Linked DNA regions of Homo sapiens: region 2 is linked to region 1. The links come from fine-mapping of genetic effects on gene expression. A gene starts in region 1. The other region holds a variant in brackets. All regions are shown on one strand. Distances are between the middles of the regions.

Region 1 (15,831 bases):
TGTGTCAGAGTTCATAGAACCGTGACAAAACAGCTTCGGAGCATTCAGGTAGAGGTAAGACCTTGGAATGTCAGCAGGACTGCATTTCCTTCAACATCCACCTCCCCTTCTCCACCACGTCTCTGATATAGCACCCTCAGGGTGCATTTAGTCGGTGTGTGTTAAATTAAACTAAATGTGGCTTGAGGATACCTCTGTACTTTGAGTTCTTACATAACAAACTGCAATCTTAGTAAACTAAATGAAAGCCTAATTTAGAAGTATGCTTCTGTAGCAGGTAGCTGAGTCTCAGCCAATCACAGCAGCTGAGTGTCAATCAATCACAGGTGGCCTACTGATCAGACTGTGTTTAAATAAGGCAACACTGAGCTGTAACTAATCAAGCTGTTTCTGTACTCCACTTCCATCTTCAGTCCATAGATGCTGTCTGCCCACAGAGCAGAGCAGAGCTCTCTGAATCTCTTCAGGTTCTGAGGGCTGCCCAATTCACAAATCGTTCTTTGTACAATTAGACTCTGTTGAATCTAATTCATGTAAAGCTTTTCTTTTAACATGTGCAATAGATGCTGGTTGGCCTAACTTCCTCATTCACAAACACGTGTAACATAAGCATGCACACACAAACACATCCCTAGAGGACATCAAAGTGGCCACTTACCTCTGTAATTATTTTTACTTTTTCTTCCCTGGGATTCATTTTGGCTGGGATGGGTCCCTGACAAAGAACAATGAAGAAGTCAGGCATTTTGAAATCAATGAAATATTGCTTCTCTTACTATGGATATGTAAGAGGCTGGCCATGATGGTAAGTGAAGTGTTTGAGCTGGGTAGACTTTCCACTCACCAGGAACCCTGGCAGACCCCAGGATTGGTGGAGATAAGTGCCAGAGGAAAGGAAGGATGCCAGGTCTCCCTGTCCCTGGGAGCCTGCCTTTACTGTGCCCATAGAGTTGGATGGCACTGGTTGGAATCCAGCTCCAGAAGGACCATTTTACAGCTCATCTCCGCTACTGCCCCTCTGCACTCTCTGCCCTTGACCTTGGCCCTTATTTCACCAAGTAAAAAGACAAGACCAGAGAGGGCTTCTACATCCCCTTCCCCTCCCACCACATGGAGCCACCGCCACCTCCTCTGCTTCCACTTGCTACTATGAACCCCCATGTCCCATGGGGCCCCTCCTTGAACAGTGCACTAGGCCCCATCATTCCTCCTCCTCCAGGCCCTTGATCCTGACAATTCTTCACTTTCATCTGGATTTTCTTCCTGCTCTATTGGCTCATTCCTACCAGTGGAAAAAATGCTGTAATTTTTTCCTTCCTTTAAAAAAAGGCCCCTGCCCCCTACACTTTTTCTTTTGAGACGAAGTCTCACTCTGTTGCTTAGGCTGGAGTACAGTGGCACGATCTCGGCTCACTGCAACCTCCGCCTTCCAGGTTCAAGGGATTCTTCTGCATCAGCCTCCTAAGTAGCTGGGATTACAGGCGCATGCCACCACGCCCGGCTAATTTTTGTGTTTTTAGTAGAGACAGGGTTTCACCATGTTGGTCAAGTGGGTCTCGAACTCCTGACCTTGTGATCCGCCTGCCTGGGCCTCACAAAGTGCTGGGATTACAGGCGTGAGCCACCGTGCCCGGCCAAAAAAAGCCCTCTCTTAACTTTACTTCTCTTTCTAGCTGTTGCTCAATTTTTCAACAATTATAGAAAAATCCCTCAAAACATTCCCTCTCTTTCCAGTTTGTTTTTTTATTTTTGGGGTCTAGCATACTCTGCAACTGCTTTTGCCAATGATTCATCTCCAGTGACCCCTGCGTTGCCATGTCCAGTGATCAGTTCTCGGCCCTCATCTTACTTGACTTGGTCAGAGGCATTTAAAACATTTTCTAAGTTTTTAATTTTTGTGGGTACATAGTAGGTGTATATATTTATGGGGTACATGAGATATTTTGGTACAGGCATGCAAAGCTTAATAATCACATCACAGAAAATTGGGTGTCTATCCCCTCAATCATTTATCCTTTGTGTTAGAAACAATCCATTTATACTCTTTTAGTTATTTTTAAATGTACAATTAAATTATTATTAACTATAGTCCTTTCATTGTGTTATCAAATACTAGGTCTCATTCATTCTTTCTATTTTTTTTTTGTATCCATTAAACAACCTCCCCCGACCCCTGACTACATTTCCCAGCCTCTGGTAACCATCCTTCTCTTCTCTATCTCCATGAGTTCAATTATTTTGATTTTTAGATCCCACACATAAGTGAGAACATGCCATGTTTGTCATTTGCATGTTCTCACTTACTTGTGGGTGAAATAAGCCAGGCATGGAAGGGTCAGAAACATTTAGTGATGAAAGTGACCCATCCCTTCTTTTGAGATACTTTCTTCAGTTGGCTCCTGGAACAAGTTCTTTCTTGGTTTTCCTTTTACCCACTGACTGTTCCTTCTCAAACTCCTTTGCTGGTTTCTCCCTATCTCTCAGACCACCAAAGATAGGAATGCTGTGGGGCTTAGCTCTGCCTGTTTTCATTCCTCTGGCCATCTCATTATGTCTCTTGGTTTTAAATACCATCTGCATGCTGATACTTCCCAAATTTACATCCTGGGTCCAGACATCTCCCCAGAACTCCAGACTCAAGTATCTGCTTGATGGACACCTTCACTTGGCTTTACATACCTCAAATAAAGTTCTTTGCTTTTACTCCTGAGCCTGCCTTGTACTGCAGTTTTCCTGTTGTAGTAAACAGAAATCCATTTTGCTCAGGCCAGAAACCTTGCAGTTGTTCTTAACTCCTTTCTCAGTCTCACATGAATCCATCAGAAATCCTGCCAGTTTTGGCTTCAGATTATTTTCAGGATCTAATCACTTCTAAACATTTCCACTGTTATCACCATGGTCAAACACCATCTTCTCTCTTGAAATCTACTGCAAGAAACTCCTAATTTCTCAGCTTGCCACATTGCTGGGCTACCATATTCTCTGCATTGAAGCCAGTGCAAATTGATGAAAATTTGAGTGACATAATCACATTGCTTCACTCAAAATCCTCCAATGATTTCCCTTTGTCAACAGAGTAAAACCCAAAGTTTTTTCCAAGGCCTACAAGCCCTGTGTGATTTGCACTTGAATCCTGTTGCCTCAGGACCTTTGTAGCTGCGGTTCCTGCTACCTAGTTCTCCTTTTTCCCAAGATATCTGCATGGCTCTTGCTGTTTCACTTTCTTCAGGTCTCAGCTGAAATTTTATTATCAGAGAGCTCTTCTCTGACCATTCGTAATACAATGATCTCCTCCCAACACCCTCCTGGAATTCCCTAACTACCTTACAATGATTTTTTCACAGTACTTATTACCACTCAACATACATACTTACTTGTTAATGTCAGCCCATATCCATTAGAATATAGCTGCAAGAGGGCAGAAACATTATTTTGTTTATTGTTTACCCCCAGAGACTAGGATTATGGGACATCATGGACATTCAATATATACTTGTCGAATGAATGATTAAGTCACTGACTTATTGGCTGTGGTTCCATAGCCACATTCTGGGACTATTTAAAGCTCCACTGTTTCTTCTAGGCTGCTGTGAGGATTAAATGAGAAAACACATGGAGAAACAACAGGCATATGGCTGACAAATCATAAGCCCTTTCTAATATCCTTGGAACCCAAATCTTAACTGGGACTTGGTCAGGTCATTTAAGCAGCTCATCTGAGATCAAGGTTTCACTGACCCTACAGGGGAATTAGCATGTTAAAGGGAAATAAAGCATCTGAAATTCTATTGTCTTCTCTACAAACCTCATCACAGGGTACAAAAAATAGAGGAAGGAAAATGTAAAAGCAGCTAAGAAAATAGAGAGGCAAGGAGATAACCTAGAGTGAATGAGGGGGCAGATAATAAAGATGAAATGCAAAAGTACATGAGAGCTCTCTAATGAACAACTCTGGTCATTGCAAACTGAAAAAAAAAAAAAACCTGTGAAACATTTTAGTAACTAAAAAAAGTTCTCTATAAGTTAATAAATGCTTTATATGGAAGAAAAAAATAGAAGTAGAAAATGAAAAATGTAATGGGATTTTCTTTTTTCCTCATTCTTTCCTGATCATTTCCTTTAAATGAGTTTCTAAGGAAATCAAATGACACCGAAATTTATTTTTTATATGAACACTGTTGCTAAGAAAAGATAAATCAATACTGCCTGGTTTTAATATGCAGTTTGCCATCATCTTATGCACTGGTACTTGTTAATATATTCCTACTGGCAACATCAAAATAGCTATGATTTACTGCACACTTATTTTGTGCTAACTATAGACATGTTCTCTTTAGTCCTCACAATAACATGTCTGGCTTAGTAGTATGTGCCCCAATTTGCGTATGAGTAAACTGAGGCTCTGACAATTTACATGATTTTTCCAAAGTTATAATTATTAAATGTCACATTCAGAACTTGATCCCAAGACTCTGTGATTCCTGAGTCCTCCCTCACTCCACTCTACCCCTCCATCTCACCATTTATTCTTGCTTTTGCAATGGCATCAATAATTATTCTGTGCTTTCCAGAATAGTGGGCTATTCTGGAAATATTTACAGTTGAAAGCTGTGAAGCATTGCACTGGTGAGAAAAGGCTTAGGCTACATTAAGCCAATGATTTATTTTACTCAGTGCAGAAAACCAGATATATTTTTTCAAGGAAAGTACTGACACCTTCATCTGAATAAATGGACTATTCCTAAGAGTCATCAGTGGGTCAGAGCCATACCTGGAGGTTGAGATACAACGCATCTCAACTCCATATTGGTTGCTTAAAAAATCATACAATATATATGCCCTACTCCAGGATGGCAAAAACATGGGTTTATAGGAAGAGTGGTCCACATATTTCTTTGCCAAGGAATATGTGGACCTGAGTTCCAACTTCAGCTTTATTTATTAGCTGTGTGATCTTGGAACAATGCCCTCCCTTCTCTGAGACACGTTTTTTTTTTTTTTGTCTGCAACATTGCAATCATACTTCCTACCTTGAAGGATGATTAATTTATAAGGGCTAAATGATGAAATGTGTGTAGTAAAATGCCTAGCACAGGCTGGGCTCTCAATATTGGTAGGTTTTGTTACTAAGAAAAAGTGATTGTGGGGAGGGAAAGTGGAAAAAAGGAATGAGGAGGGAAAAGAGCTTGGGGGATAGAAGAGGAGTCATGAGAAAGACCTTAGGTGATGTTCAAGCCCACCCACCTTCAGCTCCAATCTTCAACCCCCAGCTACCATAACTCATGTTTCATGTCTCCCTCCCTTCAGCCAGGCCCAGGGCAGTTGCCTTGCTGTTTCCATTTATGGTGCTTCTGAAACCTCCTGCACTTCTACCCATGAGTATTTTCTTCCTCACACCCTGAGAACATTTTTCTGTTCCCTCCTGGAGCTTGGACACCTGGGGAGGTGCCACATACATTGTTTTGGAATACATTATCTTATTCTACAAGTTATTCCAGCTGCAGTTTCCCTTAGCATAAGGTTAGTGACCAATAGCTTTATAGAATCATTTAATCAGCTCGATATAATGTACACTGGCCTTGAAGAGTACACATGAGTACCATATTTGAGCTGTGTTACGTGATATATGACCAGTGCATTTACATGATGTGCTAAGTACTGGAAGCCCCTCCCTGGATGTCATCCCACTGTCCTCTCAGTGTTTTTATAAATCTCTTATGGCACTTAGCTCATTGTACTCTTATCATGTGTTTATAGGTCTGTTTTCCCAGCAAATTCTGAGCTTCTGACCTAGTCTAATTTATGTTTGCACACTCTAAACTTAAATTCATTGCCTGGTGCATTGTTGATGCTCCATAAATGTTTGAATGAATGACTCTATAAGTGAGCTCTAGGATATATATATATATATATATATATATATATATATATATATATATAGAGAGAGAGAGAGAGAGAGAGAGAGAGAGAGAGAGAGAGATTTCATGCTGGTGCTGAATTTATTTGCAGAAAAGGTTATATGAAAATGCAGTAGCAAACATATTTCTTATTTGACTTTATTAGCTTTTCATACCACCTCTTTGCAATGAAGGGAAACAAACAATCAGCTTAAGTTGTAGCCAGTACATTTTCTTGAAGTCTTTGGAAAGCACAGCAACTCTTAGCACTGTGGTTAGTAGCCCTTTCTCTGTCTCATACCAAGAAAAGTGTATTTTGCAGTAATTAGTGCTTCTCCCCTTAAGCCAGTTTGAACTAAAAGGCCCATAAATGCAACACGCAGCTAATGTTTCACAGAGCTTTGGTCAGAGAGCATTTTCACTCAGGACTTGTGATGAACTGGACTTACATTTCCTGCAAACCAGATACCAGATAGCAGCTCAAATCAAAGCTGCCAAGTAATGGTCTATGTTCCCATTTCAGAAAGTAAAAACATAAATAACGATGAGAGCCCCTAAATTTACAATTCATTAAATCCAGTCTCACGGTATCCTGGAGAGGCTGAACTTCAAGCCGGGTAACTGAAAACAGGAAATCACTGTTGCAGCCTAAAGTCCGGTTAGGGACTGATTTACCTTAAGAAACTTTACAAAAGGCACTTTGCAGATTCTGCATTCTAGGATGGAAGTGGAGAGAGACGGTGCTGTTGAATCTTTTAAAAGGGTCCGGAGGGAAAGGCTGAGTGTTGGAGATGCCCCTGGGCTCCTCCCTGGGAAGCTGCAGCCATGTCTTGGAGCAAAAACACCAGCTTAGCAACCCGTTCCTAAGGAAGGTCACTCGGTAGCTTTTTTTTTTTTCCTTTAAAGTGACAGGCTACTTCCAGTAGTGGAGTACAAGCATGCTGGGTAAGCAGAGACGCACAGCCTGCAGTAGAAGGACGGAGAGAAATCAACATGAGCAGCACTGGAAATTAGGTCAAGCCTTAAGAGCTGCCCCTCCCTCATGTCATCCGGTCGTCTTGCATTTCCAATGAAGAACAGGCTCAGAGGTGGGGGGATTTAGAATCTTAAAAGGTCGTCATTACATGGTGAAGCTGTCTAACGTGGCAGCAGCAAAAGCTCTGTGGAGGTGCTGCAGAGTACCAACAAATGTTGCACTTGAGTGTTTTCCAGTTAAAAGTGGAAGGTTGAACGCACAAGTTTAATCTTTGCCTATTCTCTGAATCCCACTGCAATTCCTGAAAACGGATATAAATGTTATGGCTCAAAAAAGTTGGAAAAAAAAAAAGAGGGAGAGGTAGGAGGCAAAGTAGCTGGAAGAGTAATAGAATGAATGGAGCCAAGGAAACACACTCCAATAGACTAGTGTGTATGTGCACATGTGTTTGTGTGTATTTGTGTCTGTGTGTATGGTGTGTGTATGTTTGTGTGTATGTGTATTGACTGTATCTTCTTATTTTCTGTATTCTTGATGCTCTGGCATTTGGAGCCTTGATCCTGGAGAAACTGATTCTCCTATGTTAGCTAATTTCTAGAGATAGCAAATGATTCCCCTGAAATATGCAAAGTCTCCTTTGATATACAAGCCAACCAATCCAGAGCCCACACAACCATCTCCATTATCAAACTCTCACACACTAAGCCAATATTCCTCCTGTCCTAAGTCACCCCAGGTCCAGATACCAGACCACTATAGCCCAGAGAACACCACGATTATTCAAGCTATCCACTCCTAAATTTATGCAGCACCCTACCCTGCTTCACCTATTCCTTCCTGGGAAAACCCTAGTAAAGGCTCTGTGCTGTACTCTGCTGTCTCCGTTCTGCCTTCTGACCAACATTGGTTCTTCCCTATGTGGTCCTGTGTGGCATGCCATGTTCTATGATTTGAATGTGTCTTCCCAAAAGCATGTATTGGAAACTTAATCCCTAACACAATGGTGTCGGGAGGTGGCACCTAATGAGAGGCAATTAGGCTGTAGGGCTCTGCCCTCATAAATGCATTAATGCCATTATTGCAGGAGTGGATTCCTTATAAAAGAATGAATTTGGCCTCGTTTTCTCTCTTTCTCTTTCTTGCTCTCATGTTTTCTTGCCTTGCACCATAGGATGGTGCAGCAAGAAGACCCTTGCAGGATGCCAGCCCCTTGATCTTGGACTTCCCAGCCACCAGAACTGTGAAAAATAAATTTCTGTTCATTATAAATTGCCCAGTCTGTGTATTCTGTTACAACAACAGAAAACGAACCAAGACACCATGCTTCTTGTTTCTAGGGATCTGTTAAGTATAAACTTCTTCTTTTGTGCCAATCATGTTTGTGTCTGTGTGTCTTACCATACCTAATTAAAACAAATCCAGAGTACATTTTTTGACACAGCCTGCATGCATGTGTATGTGTCAATGTATTTGTGTTTGTGTCTCTGTACGTGTATGTATGTGTGTGTGTGTCTGTGTATGATGGGGTGTGCACGTAGGCATGAATATGAGGAAATGAGCTGATTTACTGTGCCAGGATTTGGGGCAGCAGTGTTATAGCTGAATTGTGTTCTCTCTCATCCCCAAAGATGCTGAAGTCCTAACCTCAGTATCTCAGAATGGGACCTTATTTGGAGATAGGGTATTTACAGAGGTAATCACATTAAAATGAAGTCATTAGAGTGAGATCTAATCCAAGATGATTGCGTCCTTACAAAAGGGGAAATTTGGATTCAGAGACAGACAAAATAGAAGAAAGGCAACGTGAAGACATGGGGAGAGCACCATCTCCAAGCCAGGGAACACTCAAGGCTATCAGCAGCCAGGAGAGAGGCCTGGAACAGACTGTCTCTTGAAGCTTCACAAAGAATCAACCCTGCCACACCTTGATTTCAAATTTCTAGTCTCCTGAATTGTTAGAAAATTTCTGCTGTTTAAGCCACTCAGTGTGTGGTACTTTGTTACAACAGCATCAGGAAACTAATACAACCATAGACTAAGGAAGGTGGGGAGAGATACGGGGCTAAAAATGCAGGAAGATTTGAAAGTCTGTATATTAAGGGATTGATCCTCAGGATCCTTTTTCTTGGCAGCCTGAAAAATGCCCATTCCTCAGGCATAATTTCCGTCCTCCACATCTGCCTCATCTGCTGCTGCCCAAAGGAGACTGGCGGTTTCTTTTCTAGGGAAGTTAAACCAGAGACTCTCTGGTCTCAAGTTCCCAGGTACTGCAGCAAGTGAGTGTGTCTCAGGATTGAAAACTGTATATGAAATGAAGATGTTGCAGGGCCCTTTCTGAACCTTTCTCAAGAACTTAGACAATCAAGAACATGCCATTGGCTCCCCCATCCTACCTCTACCTGCACAAAACTGGAGAAAGTAGAAAATTATTTTCTGGAAAAACTGAATGATTATAAAGCACAGACCCTACATACTGACATTTCTGGATCCTCCAATGACAAAGCTAGCATATTGCCCTTACAGAAAAGCATTACAAAAAACATTAAAGGATCTCAGGCTAGGAAATTTAATGCTTGTAGTTATAAAAAGAGAGAACCATGAAAATGGAAAAGTATAATTTACCAAAGGAGTAATACAAGAACAACTGTATGAAATAATGTATTTTCCAATTGAAGGGGACAATCTACTATCTCGTGCTGGTAAAAGAAGACAATAAGAAAACTTGTCTGTCTTGGCTTGTATTCTGCATGTGGTGAGAAAAATATGAAGAATTTACAACCATTGGTTTGCACCATGCAGTTTGTCTTATTTATGCTCCTTATATATTTTAGGAGGCCCCTAAGTGATAACTTTTAAAAAGTGGCCTCTGTCTACTGTATCCCCGTGGGGTGCCAGGCAGAAGTTATTACAAAACTTTTCTGGAGGAACACACCTTCAATTGGACAATTCAGGATGTCCACAAATAAACACAGAGGAAGATGAGCTCACAACCCAAAATTAGACAACAGAAGAGAAACACTCAAGAGTCCACAGACAAACCAGAGGACACTATTAGATACTCAAGAGTTTCTTGCAATACAATAATCAGATGGAGAGTGGAAAAATAACAATGACCAAATATTCAAGAAGATACAAGGAGGATTTGAAAATATGAAAGAAGAGTGAGACACTATCAAAAAGATCAGACAAATTCAAAAAGTAACCAGATAGAACTTTTAGAAATAAATAATACAGTCACAAATTTAGATAAAAGTCAAAGAATGTGCTAAACTGTAGATGAGAGAGCTGAAGAGATGCAAAAGATAGGTTTAAAAAATTGAAATGTGGCACAGAGATATTGAAAATAGGAAAGAGTAGGTAAAAGATACAGGGAGAAATTGATGAGGTCCACCATATCCAGTACAGTACCAGAAGGAGAGGAGAGAGAAAGAAGTTGAATGCTCTGTCTTACAACTGAGGGATCTCGGTCAACTTTCTTAACCTTTCTAGGTTTCAGTTTCCTTCTCTGTAGGAAACTGAGGTTTAATAATAGTAACTATTCCAGAGAGAGTTGTTAGGAAATTTGTTAAGTTAATAATTGTGAAGCACTTAGGACAGTCCTGGCACATAGTAAATGTTGCAAGGTTTATTAAGTGAAGAAAAATATGAATGTTTACCGTAAGAGATTATCTACTTGAAATGGTCAGCTGCCATGAGAGGAAGGACTTGTTCACCACTCTTTTGCTAATTAACCGTCTGATTATTACCTCCCTGATATTTTAAAAGTCTCATGGTCTGCCAACAGAGCTAGCTGGGCACGTCCTCTTTGATCTTTAATACTGAACTAATTCATAAGAATCATACAACTTCTTAAGTTCCAAAAATATTAAAAAGTATCATTGCAAAACACCATTACTTGCAAAAGTTCTTATGTAAGCAAAATAAATGAATCTAGCAAATTTATTTTAAATCATAACACAAAAATCTCATTCTTTTGGTTAAGTGTTCCTAGTTGGCTAAAGAGTTTTTCATCAAGAATAAATGTTGAATCACATTATCACAAGCTTTTTTCTACATCTTTTGAGATAATTAAATATTATTTTTATTCTTTCATCTATTAGTGTAGAGAATTGCATTATCAGGCATTTTAATGTCAAATTGTGCTTGCATTCCTGGGATACACTCAATTTTGTCAAGATACTTCAAAAATTAATATTGGATTTAATTACCACTTTCTAGAAATTTTTGCATTTATGTTCTTAGCTGAGATCAGCCTTGTATTGTTCTTGTCTCATTTTAGGATAAAGGATAGTCTAACCTCAAAAAAAAAAAAAAAAGCAGACTAATATTTCTCTCTCACTCATCTTTGTAACAGTTCAAGTAAAAATAGCTTTATCATTTCTGTGAAGTCTATACAATTGTCTGGGTCTAATAAGTTTTTTAAAAATTATGGTAAAATGTGTATACATGAAATTTGCCATTTTACCCATTTTAAAGTGTATAATTTAATAGTTTTTAACACAGTTGCAATGTTGTGCAACTGTCACCACTATGCTTCCAAAACTTTTTCATCACTCCAAACAGAAACTCTACACCCATTAAATAACAACTCCCCATTCTCCCTTCCCTCATTACCCCTTGGTAAACTTTAATTTACTTTCTGTCTCTATACATTTGCCTATTCTAGATATTTCATGTAAGTGGATTATTACAATATTGTCCTTTTGTGTCTTGTTTAGTTTGCTTAGTATAATGTTTTCAAGGATCATCTGTGTTGTAGCATATGTCAGTATGTCATTCCTTTTTAAGGCTGAACAGCATTCCATTGTATATGTAGATCACATTTTGTTTATCCATTCATCTGCTGATGGACATTTGGGTTGTTTCCACCTTTTAGCTATTTTGAATAATACTGCAGTGAACATTTGCCTAAAAGTATTTGTTCAAGTATCTGTTTTCAATTCTTTTGGGTACATACCTAGAAGTGGAATTGCTGGATCGTATGGCAATTCTGTTTAAGTTTTGAGGAACTGCCAAATTATTTTCCACAGTGGCTGCACCTTTTACACTCCCAGTAGCCCTGTACAAGGGTTCCAATTTCTGCACATCCTTGCCAACACTTGTTATTTTTAGTTTTTTTTATTATTATTATTTTATTTGAGACTGAGCCTCGCTCTGTTGTCTGGGCTGGAGTGCAGCGGCACGATCTCGGCTCACTGCAACCTCTGCCTACCGGATTCAAGCTATTCCCCCGCCTCGGCCTCCTGAGTAGCTGGGATTACAGGCACCTGCCACCATGCCTGGTTAATTTTTTTTGTATTCTTCGTAGAGACAGAGTTTTGCCATCTTGGACAGGCTGGTCTTGAACTCCTGACCTCAGGTGATCCGCCTGCCTTTGGCCTCCCAAAGTACTGGCATTACACATGTGAGCCACTGCACCTGGCCATTTTTAGTTTTTTAAATTATGGCCATCATAGAAGGTATGAAGTGGTATCTCACTGTAGTTTTAATTTGCATTTCCCTGATGAGTAGTGATGTAGAGCATCATGCTCCATTGTACGTATTGGCCATTTGTATATCTTTTTTTGAGAACTGGTATATGGGTGTGGGTGGTTGTAACTAGAATTCTGACCACAGACTCAATTTCTTTACTCCCTACCAAAATATTTAGGTTTTACATTTCTTCTTATTTCAGTTTTAGTATATTATATGTTTTTAGGAAATTGTCCTTTTTCTTTTTAAAGTGATTGACATAAGGTATTTCAAAATATTCTTTATTATTTTAAAACTCTGATAGACTTTCGGTCATATTCCTTTGATTATTCCTAATAATAAACATCCTGTGCTCTATCTTGGTATGCCTTTATGGTGGCTTTATAAACAAAACCCCCAAGTTATTTGGCACCCCTTTTATCAAGAAGTGGGGTCTATCTTTTGTCTATTTGTAACTGAGTGGACTAGTAACTCTATTGACCAAGAGAGTATAGCAGAAGTGATGCTGGCTTCCTGGCTGAATCAGGAGGCTAAACCATAAAAGATGATGTGGTTTCTATGTTATTTGCCCAAACTTTTATACTTAGAGCCCTGACCCACCATGTGAGAAGTTTGACTACTTTGAGGCCACCATGCTATGAGGGAGCCAGGCCACATGGGAAGGCTACACATACACACTCTGTTGGAAGTCCTAGTCTGAGTTGTCCTAGCCAGGGCTCTAGACATGAGAGTGAACAAGCATTCAGATGATTCTAGCCCCAAGTTGTTTAGTTGCCTCCTCAGGTTCAAGTTCTCTCAGTGAAGACTCCAGACATTGTGGAGCACAGATAAATGAACTAGCTGTGCTCTGTTCAAATTCCTGTCTCCCAGAATCCATGTGCATTCTAAAATAATTATTTTAAACCACTACATTTTGGGGTCATTTGTTATGCAACAATAACAACTATAGGAGTTATACCTTTAAATAAATGAAAAAATATGAATGAATGAATGAATGAATGAAATACAGTCATGATTTTTTTACATGGAATTCTGAGGGACATACTTTTTACATGTTGCTGTAGTTTAAATGTTTTTTTCCACAATTCATGTTGAAGTTTAATTGCTATCGTAACAGTGTTGAGAGGTGGGACCTTTAAAAGGTGATTAGGTCATGGGGGCACCACCCTTATGAATGGATTAATGCTATCATTGAGGGAGTGTGTTAATGATCACAGGAGTAGTTTTCTGGTAATAAGGATGAGTTCTGCCCCCATCCTCTCTCTGCATCACAGTTTGCTCACCATGTGATCCTTTCAGTATGTTATGATGCAGCAAGAAGACCCTCACCAGATGCCACTTCTCAATCTTGGACTTCCCAGCCTCCAGAACTGTGAGCCAAATAAATATCTTTTCTTTATAAATTATACAGTCTGTGGTATTATTTTATAGCAGCAGAAAATGGATTAAAGGACATGTTGTCTTAGTTGGCTTGGGCTGCCATAACAAAATATCATCGACTGAGTGGCTTAAACAACAGACATTTATTTCCTGCAGTCCTAGATGCTGAAGTTTGAGAACAAAGAGTGACATTGTCAGGTTCTGGTGAAGGTTCCCTTCCTGGCTTGTAGATGGCCACCTTCTATCTGTGTCCTCACAGGCTAGAGATCAAGTGAGCCCTGCTCTCTTTCTCTTATAAGGACACTAATCCTATCATGGACGCCCCACCCTCATGATCTCGTCTGAACCTAATCACCTTCCCAAGACCCCACCTCCAAATGCCATCACATTACGGGGTAGGTCTTCAACATATGCATTTTGCAGGTAACACAAACATTCAGTATGTGACACATGTATACCTAAAAAAAAATAAGCAAATGCATTCAATGCCTTTGAGGATAATGCCACTAAAGTATGATGCATTTGAAGCCTCTTTGGGAGACTAGGATACTGTACAACACTAAAAATTATAGAGCCCGATATGAGACTACTATGCTATATTCTCTTTGGGGTAAAGCTGCAGTGGTGCATTATTTAGGTCAATAAATGGCTAAAATATGCCTTTCACACTTGTACATGTGAAACACAATCGTAGCTTTAGGTGAATGTGTCATTTTTACTGGTTCTTTGAATTTTATACTACTTTTGATTGTAGCTGATTCATTCTCTCTGAAAGAAAAATTTATCACAAGGGAAAACCTGACTAAAATAAGGTTCAAGTTGGACACTGAAGAATGACTTTTGAATCATAAATTTTATAAAACCATGCCTTTCAATTTGGATTTATCTTTTCCAGTTTACTGAATTACATACCTCTCTCCCTCAAACATAACTTGAACTCCAGCAAATTAGAACCTCTTGGGTTTATAGTAAATAGAGAGAAACACTTATTGACTCAGATACATTGACTGTGTAGCCCATTTTTATTTTATAGATACTAAAGCATTTAATTTTCTTCCTCTAGTGCTATGATTTTCAATCTGTTTTGAATTGCACACTTTCTTCTTATTTGCTGCATTTCACAACATTCTCACTTTCTAAGAGAGCTGTTGGAGCTATAGAGAATAAAATGCTGTAAGACTCATTTTATTTAGAGAGTCATGTCATAATTTGAATTAACTAGAGATGCTCTTACATATCAGAGAAAACTGCTGCTCCAGTATAAGTAGTGAATTTTTGTTATTTTTGTTGAAAAGGATATTTTTCTATAATTTTTATATTCTTTTCTCTCCAGCTACTTCCCTTAAATGCATCTCACTGGCAGGACCTGCTTCACCAGCTTAGTGTACAAATATCATCAGAACTCTTTCATTTTCTGTGTAGTTGCTTGAAAATATTCTTGCCCTTTTTAGCAGGGCATGTAATGTCTCCGTCTTGAAGCTTCATTGCTCTCTAGAATTGCTCATAAATCTTGAGGGGCTCACTTGATTCAAAGGGTAACCCTTTGTGCAAATGCCAATGGAGAGAGAAGTAGCTAGTCAATTACTGCTGGAAATGGTTCCCAAGAAGTCTAAGCAATTTTGCTCTCAGCTACATTGATGTTTCTGTTAGTCATACCAGCTGCCTCACATTAGAGATTCCAGGTTTACCCTCTTTCAGGTTATACTAGTGCTTTTCAACCAATTTTGACCCTCTTGGACATTTGGCAAAGTTTGGGGATATTTTTGGTTGTCACAACTTGGTGGGGGGAAGGGAGTGCTACTGGCATCTCATGGGTAGAAGCCAGGAATACTGCTAAACATCCTACATTGCATAGAACTGTCCCCGCACTGCCATTCCAACATAAAAAAATTATCTGTCCACGTATGTCAAGGATGCTGAGGTTGAGAAACCCTGTTTTTTCCAATATGATTTACACCCATATGATCTGCTACTGCTTCCAGAATTTAGCAGGTTTTAAGACCTCAATCCCAGGTTACATTTAAACCAGGAATGGACCCTCCTGGAGCCCAACATCCTCTGAGTTCTAGTTTGAACCATAGTCACCAATCCACAGCCCACAAACTC
Region 2 (15,831 bases), 22 kb after region 1:
CTCCAGCACCCATTACTCCTGCTCTGATTTTGTAAAATAGCGATTTCAGAAGGCAGTTGCCAAGTTTTGCTTTTAATTGGGAGTGCAAAACTAGGTATAGCCTTGCCTATTGAATTAGAATACAAGAGTTTCCAAACTTTCGTTAGAACTGGAAGGGTAACCAAAGGCTCCTTTAATTCAGGGAAGGCAAGTTGATTTCATCTCAAGGGTACATGCTTGTTGATGGATGGACCTGGAGACTTTGTTGAGAATTCTGAGGCTGCCCTGGGGCACAGTGGGAAGAAATGCTTCTATCTATTACCAATGTCTGCCATGAGTTTGGAGAAAGACAGCACTTACTTTCCACCACCAATCCAGTGTGGAATCAGAGGCTTAAAGGATTTAGGTGATTTGTCTAAAAGTCACACAAAGCTGATTATTGGAATTCCTGGGGCTAGATCTTGTCTTCTGACTTTCCACCCAAAAGATTCTCTAATGGCTTTCTCATCCAGCTAACTTTGGCCCTTTAAAACTGTTTTAGGAAGCTAAGAATCCCTTCTCAAAAGAACAATTACTTCTTGTTATATGAGAAATTATATGCACGGCCTTCCAAAAAGTTAGTTGGACTCATATTTATGTTTTTGTAGGTGAATTTTTGTTCATAATTTAGAGTTGCCAAATTTAGCAAAAAGGAATACAGGACACCCAGTTAAATATTTGAGACAGTTTTCTACTAAATGATTGTTATGTGAAATTTATATTTGAATCTTCTGAATTTTATCTGGCAACCCTAAAAGGGAATCAGGTGGGCAACTCCTTGTGTGGACACACCTTGATATATTGATGGATATATGGCTTCTGGGCCCTGACCATCTCACATACTAACCTTCTAGTTATTATTTGTCAATATTCTGACCAACTGGGACATCTCAGGAGGCTGTGCTTTAATTTTAGTTCTACATGTAGTAAGACCTGGATGTTTTCTGTAGAAAATCCTTGCAACTCTCTTTGTTGTTCTGGAGTAATAATAATAGTAAGACCTGAGTGTTTTCTGTTTCAGTAACAATGGGGATGCTCAGTGGTGCCAAATTTATCTGAAACTGTGGTTGGAATAGATCACTGAGACTTTGTTTTTTCTTGTTTATTTCCACCAAGGCAGCATCTCACAATCTTGTAAAAGATAGTACTTTTGTAATGAAAGAGCATCTATGCAACCCCTTAGAGTTTATGATTTTTCTCCTTTTAGTGCTAGCAGATCATTTTTTGGAACCCTAACTATATTGGGCAAGTCTTTACTTCGGTAAGTTCTGCCACCTCCATGATGGCACTGGAGTGAAGCCATGAATTCAGTCTTCTTCATATAGCTGCTCATAAATGCCTTTGCCATCTGACAAATGCATTGGTTCTGAATGACTTCATACTGTTGTAATCCATTGGGTTCATAGTTCTGGACTAAGAAAAACTCAATAAAATGATGTAAACTCAAGACTAATTTCCCTCCCTGTTCTAGTTAGGAAGAAACAATTTAAAAACATATAAACTAGTATTACTTGGTGGTAATCTTGCTTTAAAAAATCCTCTGGAATAGACATCCAGGTACGCCACCAGGAAACTTTAAGAATGATATCGTGTTTTACACTTCAACTCCTAAGAGTTTTATTTCTCTCTCCTTAGACATTTTCTCTGCAATTTTTGGAAACAAAATAATATGCAACTAGCCTAAGAGCATACATAAAATATTTTATGTAAAATGAGTACAATGTTTATTGTAAAAATTAAAAATAAAGGTCAAAAGAGTAGAGATTTAAAATTCCCCATTAATATTTTAATTTAGACTTTTTCTATGCATATGGGCAAACAGACTTTAAAAATGAAATGAGTACTGAAAATATTCCTCAGTCATCTACTTTGTTTAGTTAATATTTTGTGAATATCTTATGGTGCCAATACATTTCCATCCTCTTTTTTTTAAAGACAGGGTTTCCCTATGTTGCCCAGACTGGCCTCAACTCCTGAGCTCAAGCAGTCCTCCCCAGCAGCTGGAACTACAGGTGCAAGCTCTTGTGCCTGGTGGGGCATCCTCATCATTTTTTATGACTCTGTTTCATTGGATGAGTGTATCACAGCTCATTTCACCCATGTTGAGGCTATTTCTCAATTTTCCATATTGCAAGCTTTGCTGCAGGGCTCTTTCTGCAATTAAACCTTTGCACACATTATTAATTATTTTCTTGGAGTAAATTCTTAGAAATAGGAGACTTGGTGATTTTTGTATCTTAGAAAACATTTTAAAAAATCCTGGCTATAGTAAAAGAGAATTTGGATGAGGGCACAGTTTCTTGCTCTTCCTGTACACCTTCCAGGATGGAGTCTCTTTAACTTGGGATTCTCACAAGGGAAGAGATATCATACCTGAAATGAGGAGCAGCTATGGGGTCATTTCTGTAAATAAAGGTCAGTTGGAAAAAGTAGATTTGGGGGGCTGTGTAGACTCTCTCACCATGACAAGACTGTACAGATATGGTTCACAAGTGGTTCTCAATTTTGACCCCCCAGGAGACATTTGGCAATGATGGGAGATATTGTTGCTTGTGATGACTCACGTGGTTGGGTGGAGATGCTACTAGCATCTAGTGGGCAGAGGCCAGGGATGCTGCTAATGTCCTATGATGCACAGGACAGCCCTTAAAAAAAGAAGGATCTGGCTCAAAGTGCAAGATTCCTACCAAATTTAGGAAACAGTGATGCAGAGCAGAAATAAAAAGGGATCAATGAGTCTCTTGAAAACCATGGTACAGCACTGCAAATTTTATGTTTTCTTTTCTTTCAAAAGAGTCTTCAGTTACCCAATATATTTGGCATGTCTCAGGCTGATCTACAAACCACATTAGGGAACACACAAGGCCTGTGGAATGTGTGGTCCTACTTGCTCCTGGCTTCTGTTAGGATTAATCTTGACAAGAATGTGTAGTGTGTATAGAGGAATTTAGACTGCCTGGATTTTTCTAAGCATGATAGTACAACGATGATGCTAAAAGATTGCCTAGGTTCCTTTTGTGGAACTAAACCAAATGCAGAGGGTCAGCATCAATCCTTTGGGGCCAGTCTCTGTTCCTTGGGCAGAGCAAAGTAGGTTGTTATATTTGGGACTCCTTAGAGTTTGCCGAGCTGCATGTTCTGGCCGCACTGAATATTTTGATCATGAGTAAGCCAGTCATGATTGTGACAGGCTTAGCTCCCAGCTAAGGTCAGAGGAAAATGATGTTTGCTAGGATCAAAGGAAGATAATTGTGGATATTGCATTTCCTCCATAATGCAATGATCTTGCTGTGAAAACATGTCTTAAAGAAGAGGCCTTGAGAGGCAGGGGAGTGCATGTGTGTGTGCTCATGACAGGGCATGGGCATTGGAGGTGGATGGGCAGAGCTAGAATATCCCACATTTATTAAGGCTTGTCATGGGCAAATTGCTCAATTGCTCTGAGCCTCAGTACTGTTACCTCTAAAGGGGTAAGAAGAGTATTTAACTCATGATGAGCTGGAAAGCTACTAGGTTAGAATCTTGAACTCCTAAATCTCCACCAGCTGTTTGTTGCTGTTGCAAGTTTAGGAGAGGGACTTAGGAGGGACACTGTGGCAAAAACCCTCTGTTCATCAGTCCAAGGACTTCACTCCAAGATCCCATGCAATTTTTTTGTAAGTGGAGCTGGGCCACATCTGAGACTCAAGGGTTCCTTGTGCATAAATTACACAGCTCTGGAAAAATGTTCCTTCTGCTGTATGCATTCAAGGAACCAGTAAAAACAGGAAGCCAGTTTTATTGCATAAGCTGTGTGGAGTTTTAGAGAGACTAGAGAAGGAAGAGATCTGGGAGGGGAGCCCTGTGCTGGTTGATTTCCGTTGCTCCTACCCTCTCTCCTGGCTCCCATCCATCTTCTATCCCTGTCTGTTCTGAGTTTTGCCCAAGAAGTTCATCTCTGTGCACTGCATCACCAAGACTATCTGGGCACCTGGAGTCATGGGCTTTGACCAGTGAGGGGTATAAATAGGAGACTGAAAGGTAGAAGAGGGTGGTCAGGGGATTCACAGTCCTGGCTTCTTCCCTACTTCTGGCAGTGGCTGAGCTCTTCTGCAGGTGTAGTTCCTGTAGGCTGGTCCCTCTGCCAAGTCTCCAGTTCTTCACTGCACTTTGCAACCACCACTGCCTCTCCTCCTTTTCAGGATTTGGGATGGTGAAGCATTCCTGCTGTTGCTAGTCCTTGGATACTTCAGCATCCCTGCATGGTTCTTTTCACCCCACCTGCACCTTTAATACAGTTCTTTCATTTGACCTTCCATAGTGAAATCCTTTTGAAAGTGTTATGCTGCCTTCTGCCTGAACACTGATAGGCACATCCTGGAGAGAGAAGAACCCCTAGAGAACTTGGTATGTGGCCTTGAGAGTCTTTGAACTTCTCCATTCTGATGCTGAAGCGGCATCCCAGAACTTGGGAAGCTTCCATCCCAACGTCCATACAAATGCTACTTTTCTTTCTTTTCTTTTCTTTTCTTTTCTTTTCTTTTCTTTTCTTTTCTTTTCTTTTCTTTTCTTTTCTGTGTGTGGGTGTTTTTTTTTTTTTTTTTTTTTTAAGAGAGGAAGAAGGTGAGAGTGGTACTGAATTCTCTCTAGAGGTTAGAAGAATGCGCCACTGACAGGGGCTTTTCCTGAGGATAAAATAAAGTACCATGCTGAAAGGATCCAGTATGGTGCCATTTACTAGGCACACAGTAAATGGTAACTGCTGGTATCATGAGACACTGACTGGTGATCTCTCAAGGAAACAAGAAGGAAAACATGAGGTCAGCAATGTAGTTAACAACTGAGAGTAGCTTTTTAATCTCTCCTTTCAGGGCTGTCATTATGTGTTGGCTGAGGAATGAATTGGATTTACGGGCTCCTTTTTTTTTTTTTTTTAAATGCTTTTATTTTAGGTTGGGGGATACATGTAAAGGTTTGTTACATAGGTAACCTCGTGTCACGGGGGTCTGTTGTACAGATTATTTCATCACCTATGTATTAAGCCCAGTACCCAATAATTATCTTTTCTGATCCTCTCCCTCCTCTCACCTTCCACCCTCAAGTAGACCCCAGTGTCTGTTCTTCCCTTTTTTGTGTTCATGAGTTCTCATCATTTAGCTCCCACTTATAAGTGAGAATGTGTGGTATTTGGTTTTCTGTTCCATGTTAGTTTGCTGAGGATAATAGCTTCTGGCTCCATCCATGTTCCTGCAAAATACATGATCTTATTCTTTTTTATAACTGCATAGTATTCCACAGTGTATATGTACCATGGATTCTGTCATTGATGGGCATTTAGATTGATTCCATTTCTTTGCTGTTGTGAATAGTGCTGCAATGAACATTTGCATGCATGTGTCTTTATGGTAGAATAATTTATATTCCCCTGGGTATATACCCAGTAATGGGATTGCTGGGTTGAATGGTAGTTTTATTTTTAGCTCTTTGGGGAATTGCTGTACTGCTTTCCATAGTGGTTGAACTAATTTACACTCCCATCAACAGTGTGTAAGTGTTCTCTTTTCTATGCAACCTCAAACTGGCTCTTTTTGATACCATAGAGACTTATCTCCAAGGATGCTCTTCCTCTTCTTTTTATCATTATCTAAAATAGTTGCATATGTTATTGCCTATTCTAGGGTATTGATGTCAAAAATCAGAGAGTTTGAGGGGAAGAAGAAGTATTTCAGTTGGAAATAATTTATTCTTTCATTAAAAGTGGCCATTGGAGATCAGCATTATGACAGCCTGTAGGATGAGATCATCACAGATGCCAGGCTTTTACAGTATGAAATATTTAGCCAATTCTGACCAAATATTATCAAAAATTAGATTATTTCAGGGAAAAATCATTCTAGCAACACGTTTATTTTGCATCATGCAGACAAAATAAATGTGGTTTTGATTTTATATGAAAACAGCTTAGGAAATCTCTAGTTAATTTTGTCTGCCAATTAATTAATCTCTCTTTTTCTTGACCTGAAATCTTCATTTTCCTTTGGGAAATAATTTCTTCCTCCTCCTACCACCTCTGTCCATGTGATTTAGATGAGATGGATTTTTCTTTGAGCTCTAGTGCTGGGTTGTGATGTAAGCCTGGTCAATGGCAACATCACATTTCCTTGGCCAATTGTTGGTTGAGGGATAGGCTCATGATTCAAGTAGAACCATTCAGAATCAAAAGGCTGTCATTTCCAGGTATTTCATGGGAATTATTGAGAAAGATAATTTT[C/T]TTCCCCCTGCTCGGACTGCAAAATGCAAACCTGAGTTGCTGGTGGCCATCTTTGCAATAAATAAAGGCAATACCCTTCCTGAAAGTGAAGCCAGCAATGTGGGGAGCTGCTCTGTAGGAGGGAGAGAGATAAGACCCTGGTGACATTGTTTGGGTACCCAGGTCTGGCTCTGGGATTTTTGTTATTTCAGTGAGTTTCCTTTTACTTGAACCATGTTGAATTGGAGTCTGGCAGTTATAATCTAAATAATATTGATTAATGTACAAGATGATAATAGGATTTTCCTGTTGTGACACCTCCCCCATTTGACTCTGACCACATGTGTAGATTGTGACTGAAAAGAACTTGTCACTAATTAATTCATCATAATTTTATTGAGCACATACTATAGCAGTCATCATGTAGAGTCCTGGGATATAAAAATCAATAGGGCAAACAAACTCTCCATCAGATAGACAAATGTAAAAAATATATGAGCAATGTGCCAGCACGGTGGTTAAGAGAGTGGGCTTTGGCGCTTCACTGCCTAGGGCTACTGTGCCACTTACTATTTGCTTCACATATTTCATAACCTCTCTGCCTCTCAGTTTATCCATCTGTAAAATGAGGTGAATAATTGTTGTGAGGACTGTCTTAATCCATTTGAGCTACTATAATAAAATACCAAAAACTGCATAGATTATGAACAACAGAAATTTATTTTACAGTTTTGGAGGCTGGAAAGTAAGATCAAGGTGCCAGCAGATTTGATGCCTGGCGAGGGCCTGCTTCCCCATTCATAGATGGCCATCTTCTCACTGTGTCTTCATGTGTTGAAAGGAGGTCTTTGGGGCCTTTTATAAAAAATAAGGGCATAAGTCCCATTTATGAGGGTAGGTCTTTCATGACTTAATTACTTCCCAAAGGCCCCACTTTCTAACACCATCCCACTGGTGATTAGGTTTCAACATATGACTTTTGAGGCTACACAAACATGCAGACCGTAGCAAGGACCAAGTGAGCTGATACATGTAAACCACTCAAAAAGTGCCCAGTAAGTGTTTGCTATTGCTACCATGACTATGCACTGGTTCCCAGATGGCAAGGAACACACACGTGGTCATCTGTAATTCTCCTTAGGCACAGGGGAAGGGAAAGATTAGAGAAAAGAAAGTAACTTTTGAGCTGAACCTGAAAAGGTGAGGCACCCTAGGGCAAAGTACCCTAGAATTGCAGTTATCTGCATATTCTTGGATAATAGTTACACGTGGGTGACTTTTGAAGATGTGACTGTAAAAGTTTGCAGAAGCTACATCCTCAAGGGCTCAATGCACCATGCTAAACGATGCTTTTATGAGTATTAGGTAGGATAACATCTTTTCCAAGTGATCAAATAATCAAAGGGCTTAAGTAAAAACAGCATTTAACAGTTTCCATAATTGAAAAGTCCAAGGGAACAGCTGGCTATAGATATGTCTAGATTGGGGTTCAAATGATGACTCCAAGACCCATTTTCTCTCTTTGTCTCTCTGCTTCATCTGTGCATGGGTCTATTCTTGCATGGTATTATGCTCTGTGGTGGTAATGTGGCTGGTGGAGGTTCACAGGCTTAAGTCCAACAGAAAAGAAGGAGATTCTCTTCTATAGATGTCCCAGCAAAGTTTCATTGACTCTCATAGAGTCACCTGAATCAATTATTTTGGTGAGTGGGATGCTATACTCTGATGAGTTAGGCTAGAGATTTACATACTGGAAGTGTCAGTTCCACTGAGAAGCTCATAGACTTAGCACGTAAAGGAAGATAGTCCTTCAGAAGGAATTTAGGTATGGATACCAGAAAACAATATGAAATACACACCTGATGGCAAAACTTATAGAAGTTCAAAACACCTTTTATAGCGGAGGGATTGGGAGGGTCATTGCTGTTTTTTAAGCCGGGAAATGGCATGCACATTTTCATTTTAAAAGGATATACTCAATCTAGTGTGGAGGATGGATTGGAGGGTTGTGGTTGGAGGCAAAGGGCCAGTTACAACGTTTTTCACTGATTAAGGGAAGTGATGATGAATGTATGAATGACACCTTTTGCACCGGGAATGGAAAGGTGCAATGAATCAGATATGTGCATTTAGTGGCTGGAACCATAAGAATTTTATGCTGGGCAAAATTCAGTAGGGAAGGGAGGAAAGACATTTAGTTTGCACCTTACGGTTTTGACTTTGGTACAGGGTGGGTAGAGATGCTATTTACTGAAAGTGGAGCTACAGAGAGAGAGAGAGACAAAGAGAGAAACCTAATGATGTGGTTTGGATGTTTTTGTCCCTTCCAAATTTCATGTTGATCTATGACTCCCAATGTTGGAGGTGGGCCTAGTGGGAGGAATTTTGGTCATGGGGGTGGATCCCTCATGAATGGCTTGGTGCTGTCCTCATGCTAATGAGTTCATGTGAGATCAGGTTGCTTAAAAGAGTGTGACACCTCCCCCCCACTCTCTTGATCCCTCTCTCACCATGTGATAGGATGGTGGTGCCCTCTTCATCTTCCACCATGATTGGAAGCTTCCTGAGGCTGCACCAGAAGCAGATGCTGGCACCATGCTGCTTGTATGGCCTGCAGAACTGTGAGCCAAAATAAACCTCTTTTCTTTATAAATTACCCACCCTCAGGTATTCCTTTATAGCAATGCAAATGGACTAACCCAGCTCATATCTAAAATTTATTTACGTTCATGATCTTTTACACAGAGTGGTAGAAAAAAAGTATATTTAGAGTTTATAGAATCTATTTTTTATCATAAGCAACACTGTTCACAATGATAAATGACCTGGAAATACCCTTGTGCATGCAGGGGCACAAAGAAACATTTGTGGCCTGAAAATGTGTAACACAGGCACATTCATGTTCATGTACACACAGCATTATATTAGCCTCATTATTTTCTTTTTTTTTTGTTTTTCCCATTTCTTCTCATCTGCTTTTGACTGCTGTTTTCTTTTTATATCTTATTTATCTTCTTAAGTGGCTTTAAACTCTTCTAGAACAAGATGGTGTATAGTCAATAAATATTGCTTAATACATATTCATTACAAGTCAGCCTTTACAAAGAATGATTGCAATGAGACTTGGAACTTTTTAAACCAAAACTGTTTTGCTACTTTCTTTATACAAATATTTACAAATGTGGATAAACTGTATCTGCTATTTTTTAAGAATAAAAGACACCTATATTTGCTTAAGATTTTATTCGTTTAATACCAAAACAGCTCCTCTTTTCTCATGTCAGTTCTCTAATCCCCATTACCATCCCACCAGATATTTGAAAACGAAATTCATCTCTAGGCTTCAAACCAATTAAAGGAAATTCAGTTTTAAAAGCTACTCAAAATAGGCTTTGTAATAAAAGAAACATTTAAAAGATAAGTAAGCAATGTCCAAAAAATGAATGCATTCGTGGATTACGATCAGAAGAAAATTTTAATCACAGTGATTTGTGGTTCATGACTGTCTGCAATAACTTCTCCATTTCCAGTTTATCTAGCAAATCTTGTAGTCTTTAAAGGGCCCATATGTTCACTTTTCCCGGATTAGTTACTTCTGTTGGCTCTTTTTTATGCTTTATAACTTGGAATTCTATCTTTGGCTGTTATCTGTAAGCAGGTGACTACCTCAAACCACCTTTGCTGTCTCCTTTTTTTCTAATACTCATTGTTCTTGGTCTCCTGTACACATGTCCTGACTCAGAAGGAGAGCAATAAGTGCACAAAGTATGGCAGGAAGATGAAGACAATGAAAGCAAGATAGGGTTGAAAGACAGGAAAAGCAAGATAGGGTTGAAAGACAGGAAAAGCAAGCCTTGCCTTTGCACACAACTGCTAGATCATTGCAACTTTCATCTGTGGTAATGGCAGTATCCAGCTCTGAAATACACAGGGTCTCTACACTTTCTTATGAATAAATCCTCCAATTCTCAGGCTGGCTTTCAAAGCTCTTACAAATATGGTCCATTGATTCTCCTTCTGGGTCTCTGTTCTCACTTCGTCCCCATCATTACCTCTGTCTCAAGTGCGCTTTCCCCCAACTTGTGCCACTCCAAGTGTCACCCATCATGTAAGGCCCAATGAGCAGAGAGGATTTCCCTATCCCTTCTCTGTCACATCCTAATTTGGAAGTAAACATTTCCTCTTCTTTCACAGCATTTTGCCCTTATTTCCAGCCTAGAACTTAGCATATTTTATCATTTTCTCATCCAAAATTTAGGTATTTTTTGTGTGTGTGCATGCCATTTCCTTTCTGGTATCCTTAGAAATTTACTAGTCAGAGCTGGCTCCTGCACCCTCTGGGAAGTGAGGAGCACCTCTGCCCGGCCGCCCCTCTGTCTGGGAAGTGAAGAGTGCCTCTGGCCAGCCGCCGCACCATCTGGGAAGTGGGGAGCACCTTTGCCCAGCCGCCATGCAACCCTCCAAGTGTGAAGTGGAAACCTTGTGTGTGATGTTTCCGCCCTCCCCAAGTTTGCATTTTCGACAGTAAAATTTACTTTTAAATTAAAAAATTTAAATTGGGGAAGATTAAAAAAAAGAAATTTACCAGTCAGAGCTATACTATTAATATATTAATCTTGATACTCTTCTGTCTTCACAGAATCTAGCATGGTGATTCAAACATAAGAGGTATGAAAACTATTTATAAGTCAATGAGCAGAGAAAGGAATACATAGAAGGAGGATTGGAAGTTACCAAAAGGGAGGGATAAAGGGAATACTATTACCATAAACCATAGAAATGGTAGATCAGACAAAATCATGGAAGAGAATAATTGAAGAATTGCAGTTCAGTGAAGAACAAGGTGCTGACACAAGCAAGAGTGGGACTAAGGGAGGTGTGAGACTTGGAAGGGATATCTGTTTACTCAGACATTTGGCTCTCTCCCTCCTTCTCCTGTTCATTGCTCTCATCAGCTTACTCGTAAATCAGTGAACATATGCCTTGCTTTATTTGAAATAAATACCTAGCAGATCCATGAGAAGCAATGTCTTACCACAATGTAAAGTGGTGCCCATATTTATGAGAAAGCTATTAGGACAAATGTTTGTCTTGGGAAACCATCACACTAAAGGATTCAGAAGAATCACCTGCTGGCTATTTCTCTTCATTTCAATCTCCATTTTTATCACCCCTGCCAGGCCTCCTCTGTCTCTAGATTTTTCACCCCTTTGCTGTTGAGAATACCAATCATGCATTGAGGGTGCAAAGAGAATGCAGTGCTGAATTCCTCATTCCCTTTGCATCCATCACACCCCCTTAAACACATACACCTTGGCATGATTAGTGTTTTTCCATGCGTAAAAGCTTCTCTGGCCCCCAGCCTCAGGAATAGCAGACCCTGTGTGCTTTTAGCTTCAAATCCATCTGTTTGCTATGCTGCTCATCACACTGAATTGTGATAGTTTGATCACCACACACTAGCCCATAGGTAGGGGCTTTGTCTTAACTCATTATTAAATCTGATTCAGCGCCACAGTGTCTGGTCCTTACAGGCTCATTAAAGGGTTGTTGAGTGAATATATACAAACATGAAGGAATAAATAATAAAACAAAAAACATTTATCATTTCTCTGTAGCTTGCTTGAAAAATAGTTAGCATCTCTTACCTTTGGTTTTTGACTTACTATATAGCCTTTCGAGAATTGTCAAAGATTTTGGGATGTTATGTTTTTCTTAAATAACAGACTAAAATATATTTTTTGAAGATTTAATAAGGCAATATTATTGCCAACTGGTTTTATCACTCAGGGCATTTAATAGAAAATTTGTTAACATTGTCTTTAATTTGCTTAAATATTTATGAACATTGCTTTCAAGAGAATTTATATCTGGGGCTATTCTTTAATAGAATTCATTTTGTTGTGGTTTCAACTTTTCTGTGTTTCATCTTGTTTTGATAAATTCTGCTAGAATTGTCTTTAAATGCTTTAGAATCTGAGTGGGAGTCTCTTTGGATCCCATTCCTGCTTGTTCCACCTTCTGGAACCCCAGATTCAATCAGAGTGTTTACCACAGGGATCTTGGTCCTGATCACAATTCATCATCTTCTGATATGGAATCTAGGTAATCTGTGTCAACGTATAAGAGAAACCCGGAGAATAAGCTGTCTGCCCAACCTGGGTCTGAGAAGAGGCCATTCTGGTCTGTGAAGAAAATCTCCAGCCAGACTTCATCTTCTGGCTGCAGATAGATGACTGTGGACCCCGAAGCCACATCATGGTTTCCTGTGTTGGCGTCGAAGGTCTTTATCCGGTATTGCCCATTGTGTACCAGTCCGATTGCCAGATGCTTATTAGCCAATGTGATATCATAAGAAAAGTAATAGATCCCTGGGAAAGCACAGATGAACTTCCCTGTGGCAGGGTTGTAGTGCTCTCCCTCGTTGAAGAGGACCTTGTTAAATATAATAGGTAGTCTTTCTTCTGGGTAGCTGGTTGTGATGCCAACAGAAAAGGCGGATTTGAGCACGATGCTTCCACATCTGCAAACTCCAGGCAGCCCCGGGTCCCCTTGTTCTCCTCTGTCTCCCTTTGGTCCAGGAGGACCAATTGGACCTACTTCTCCTTTCTCTCCCTCTGGTCCTATGGGTCCTTTCTTCCCAGTCTCTCCTTGGTCCCCTTTCTCACCGGCAAGACCTAGCGGTCCAGTCTTACCTCTCAAACCTTCAGAAAGAGTATATAGTTTGATTAATAGTTCCTCAAAAGATATAATCACAAACAATATACCTACATGGTCCCAGCACATCCCAACTTTGTCTTTTCAGGCAACATTTAACAGTGTACTACTAAATAATAAACTTTTTTTTTTTTGAGATGGAGTCTCACTCTATCACCAGGGCTGGAGTGCAGTGGCATGATCTTGGCTCACTGCAACCTCCGCCTTCCGGGTTCAAGCAATTCTCCTGCCTCAGCCTCCCAAGCAGCTGGGATTATAGGCGCCTGCCACTACGCCCAGCTAATTTTTTGTATTTTTAGTATAGACTGGGTTTCACCATGTTGGCCAGGCTGGTCTTGAACTCCTGACCTTGTGATTCACCCACCTCAGCCTCCCAAAGTGCTGGGATTATAGGCATGAGCCACCGCGCCCAGCCAATAATAAACTTTTAAAACATCACTGGTGCACTAACAACAAAAATAGAAAATTTTCGTCAGAATTTAAGTCAATTTTCCTGAATATGTAAGAAATAATTTAAATCCTGACAAATTTAACATAATTAACTATCATTTTGATGATGGATCACTTGCCACTATATTATTCACATATAGGTACTGGGCACTACAGGAACCCTTCAATGAGCATGATGATATTATTTCTCAGAGTGGGCCCAGAGGGGCAGACAGAACCAGGCAAATCCCTAGAGGCTTCATTCTATTTCTATTTGTGATAATAATAAGAGAATTAATCAAAATTAGATTTGCTTATATTTATGAAGGATTTACTATGTTCCAGGGACAATGTTAAATGCTTTATTTGCATGCATTATCTTATTTAAGTTTCACAGTGACTTTATGAACTCAGAATTATTATTACTTTCATTGCAAATGAGGAAGCTGAGCCATAGAGGAGTTACTTTACTGAAGAGAAGAGAACTAGTGAATGATGGAGCTGTGGTCTGACCTCATGCCTGCCTGCCTGACTCTGGAGCCAGAGCATTTGGCAGGAACATAAATTCTTTTTTTTTCTTTTTTGAGACAGAGTCTCACTCTGCTGCCCAGGCTGGAGTGTCATGGCGCGATCTTGGCTCATTGCAACTTCCACCTCCCAGGTTCAAGCTATTCTCCTGCCTCAGCCTCCTGAGTAGCTGGGATTACAGGTGTGCACCACCACATTCAGCTAATTTTTGTATTTTTAGTAGAGATGGGGCTTTTGCCATGTTGGCCAGGCTGGTCTCGAACTCCTGACCTCAGGTGATCCGCCTGCCTCGGCCTCCCAAAGTGCTGAGATTTGGGAGTCCTGAGCCGCCATGCCCGGCCAGCAGGAGCATAAATTCGAAAGCGCATCTGGCACATAGCGAGGGCTCAACATGCTACAATAACCATAAAACAATGACTGCCACCACCATGCAGTAGCTTATTTTGTGAGGAGAAAACTGAGTCCCAGACAGGTAAAAAAAACTTGCTTCTGGGCTGGGTGCAGTGACTCACGCCTGTAATCCCAGCACTTTGGGAGGCCGAGGCGGGCAGATAACGAGGTCCGCAGATCAAGACCATCCTGGTTAACACGGTGAAGCCCCGTCTCTACTAAAAATACAAAAATTAGCCGGACGTGGTGGTGCGCGCCTGTAGTCCCAGCTACTCGGAAGGCTGAGGCAGGGGAATTGCTTGAACCCGGGAGGCGGAGGTTGCAGCGAGCCGAGATTGCGCCACTGCACATCAGCCCGGGCGGCAGTGCAAGACTCAGTATCAAAAAAAAAAAAAAAAAAAGTTGCTTCTGTACCAATGCTAGGACTAGAATCCAAGCCTTCTTAGTCGAATGATGTTTCCGGTTCATTAAAATGCCTTTTACCTTTGGGGTTGGAGTCAAGAATCTTAAATAGTGTTTGGCTCTGTCACTAAACGGTTGTATCATTTTAGGTAAGTCCCTTAATTTTTCTGAGTCTCTTTATATACAGAGAAGACATAATTGCTGTGAAAGAATTTTCACAAATTCCAAATCACCATACAGGAACATTTTCTGTGTGTCTAAATCTTTATATCTGCAGACCAACTATAGGCTAAATACAGAAAAATGGTGATCCTGGTTGAAGGAAATAAGCAAAATCAGTTTAATTTATATAAATGGTTTAAAATTTAAATAGTTTATGTATATAACACATTATATATACAATATTTTATACATATAAAATCTATATAAGACATTGATTTTGTATATGACATTCACGTTTTATATATAAAATAGATTATATATAAGACATTGATTTATATATGACATTTTACATATAAGGCATTGTTATATATATAAAAAAGCAATGATTTTATATATATAACAGCAATGATTTAATACCATCGAAAGATATCATTCAATTTTATGGCCAAATCTATTTCACAAATAGTGCTTGTATGATGATATTTCCTCAAAAAGTATCCAAATTATTAGTAACCTGTAGTGCACTTTTGTAGTCAGAGCAAATATATTGCTGATGAATTGTGTGTTTTACTTTACCTATGTATTTGTTCTTGAGAAATTTTATTAAGCTAAACTGAAATTTAAATTTTGGGCGAGTCATTTCTTTTCTGGGTTTTAAATGCTCCATTTGTAATAAGGGGAGATTGGATCTAAGTCCAATCCAAACTTACTGGGCAAAGCAGCAAACAGACCTGGGATAAAACCCCAGTTCAGCCATGGATTAGTTAGGTGAATTTTAAGAAAGGGCTTGATCTCTCTGGCTTTAGTTTCCCAATCCTTGAAACGAAAGTGTTGGACTAGATTGTTTGAGGTCTCACCCTCTTGAAAATTCCTTGAGACCAAATCATACATTCTGGGATGCAATTTTACAATGCTGTCCACAAAAAGGCCTTCACGGCCTGAAAGTTTGGATTTTC

What was found. PIP is the estimated chance that this variant, and not a neighbour inherited with it, causes the effect. A credible set is the group of variants that fine-mapping cannot tell apart.
Region 2: its variant is the best candidate, but not a certain one, in a credible set for the expression of CC2D2A in whole blood (TOPMed, PIP 0.55).

The regions. Positions count from the first base shown.
Region 1 is chr4:15,460,799-15,476,629 of GRCh38, reverse strand. CC2D2A (coiled-coil and C2 domain containing 2A) reads right to left here and starts at 6,748. Exons shown (of 37, transcript NM_001378615.1): 1 at 6,573-6,748; 2 at 659-715. The coding sequence starts at 697.
Region 2 is chr4:15,439,288-15,455,118 of GRCh38, reverse strand. It overlaps C1QTNF7 (C1q and TNF related 7), which reads right to left. Exons shown (of 3, transcript NM_031911.5): 3 at 8,952-12,951. The coding sequence ends at 12,320. LOC107986185 (a long non-coding RNA gene) reads right to left here and starts at 8,792. Exons shown (of 2, transcript XR_001741392.1): 1 at 8,758-8,792; 2 at 6,625-7,102. The variant C/T (reference allele first, on the strand shown) is at 6,269.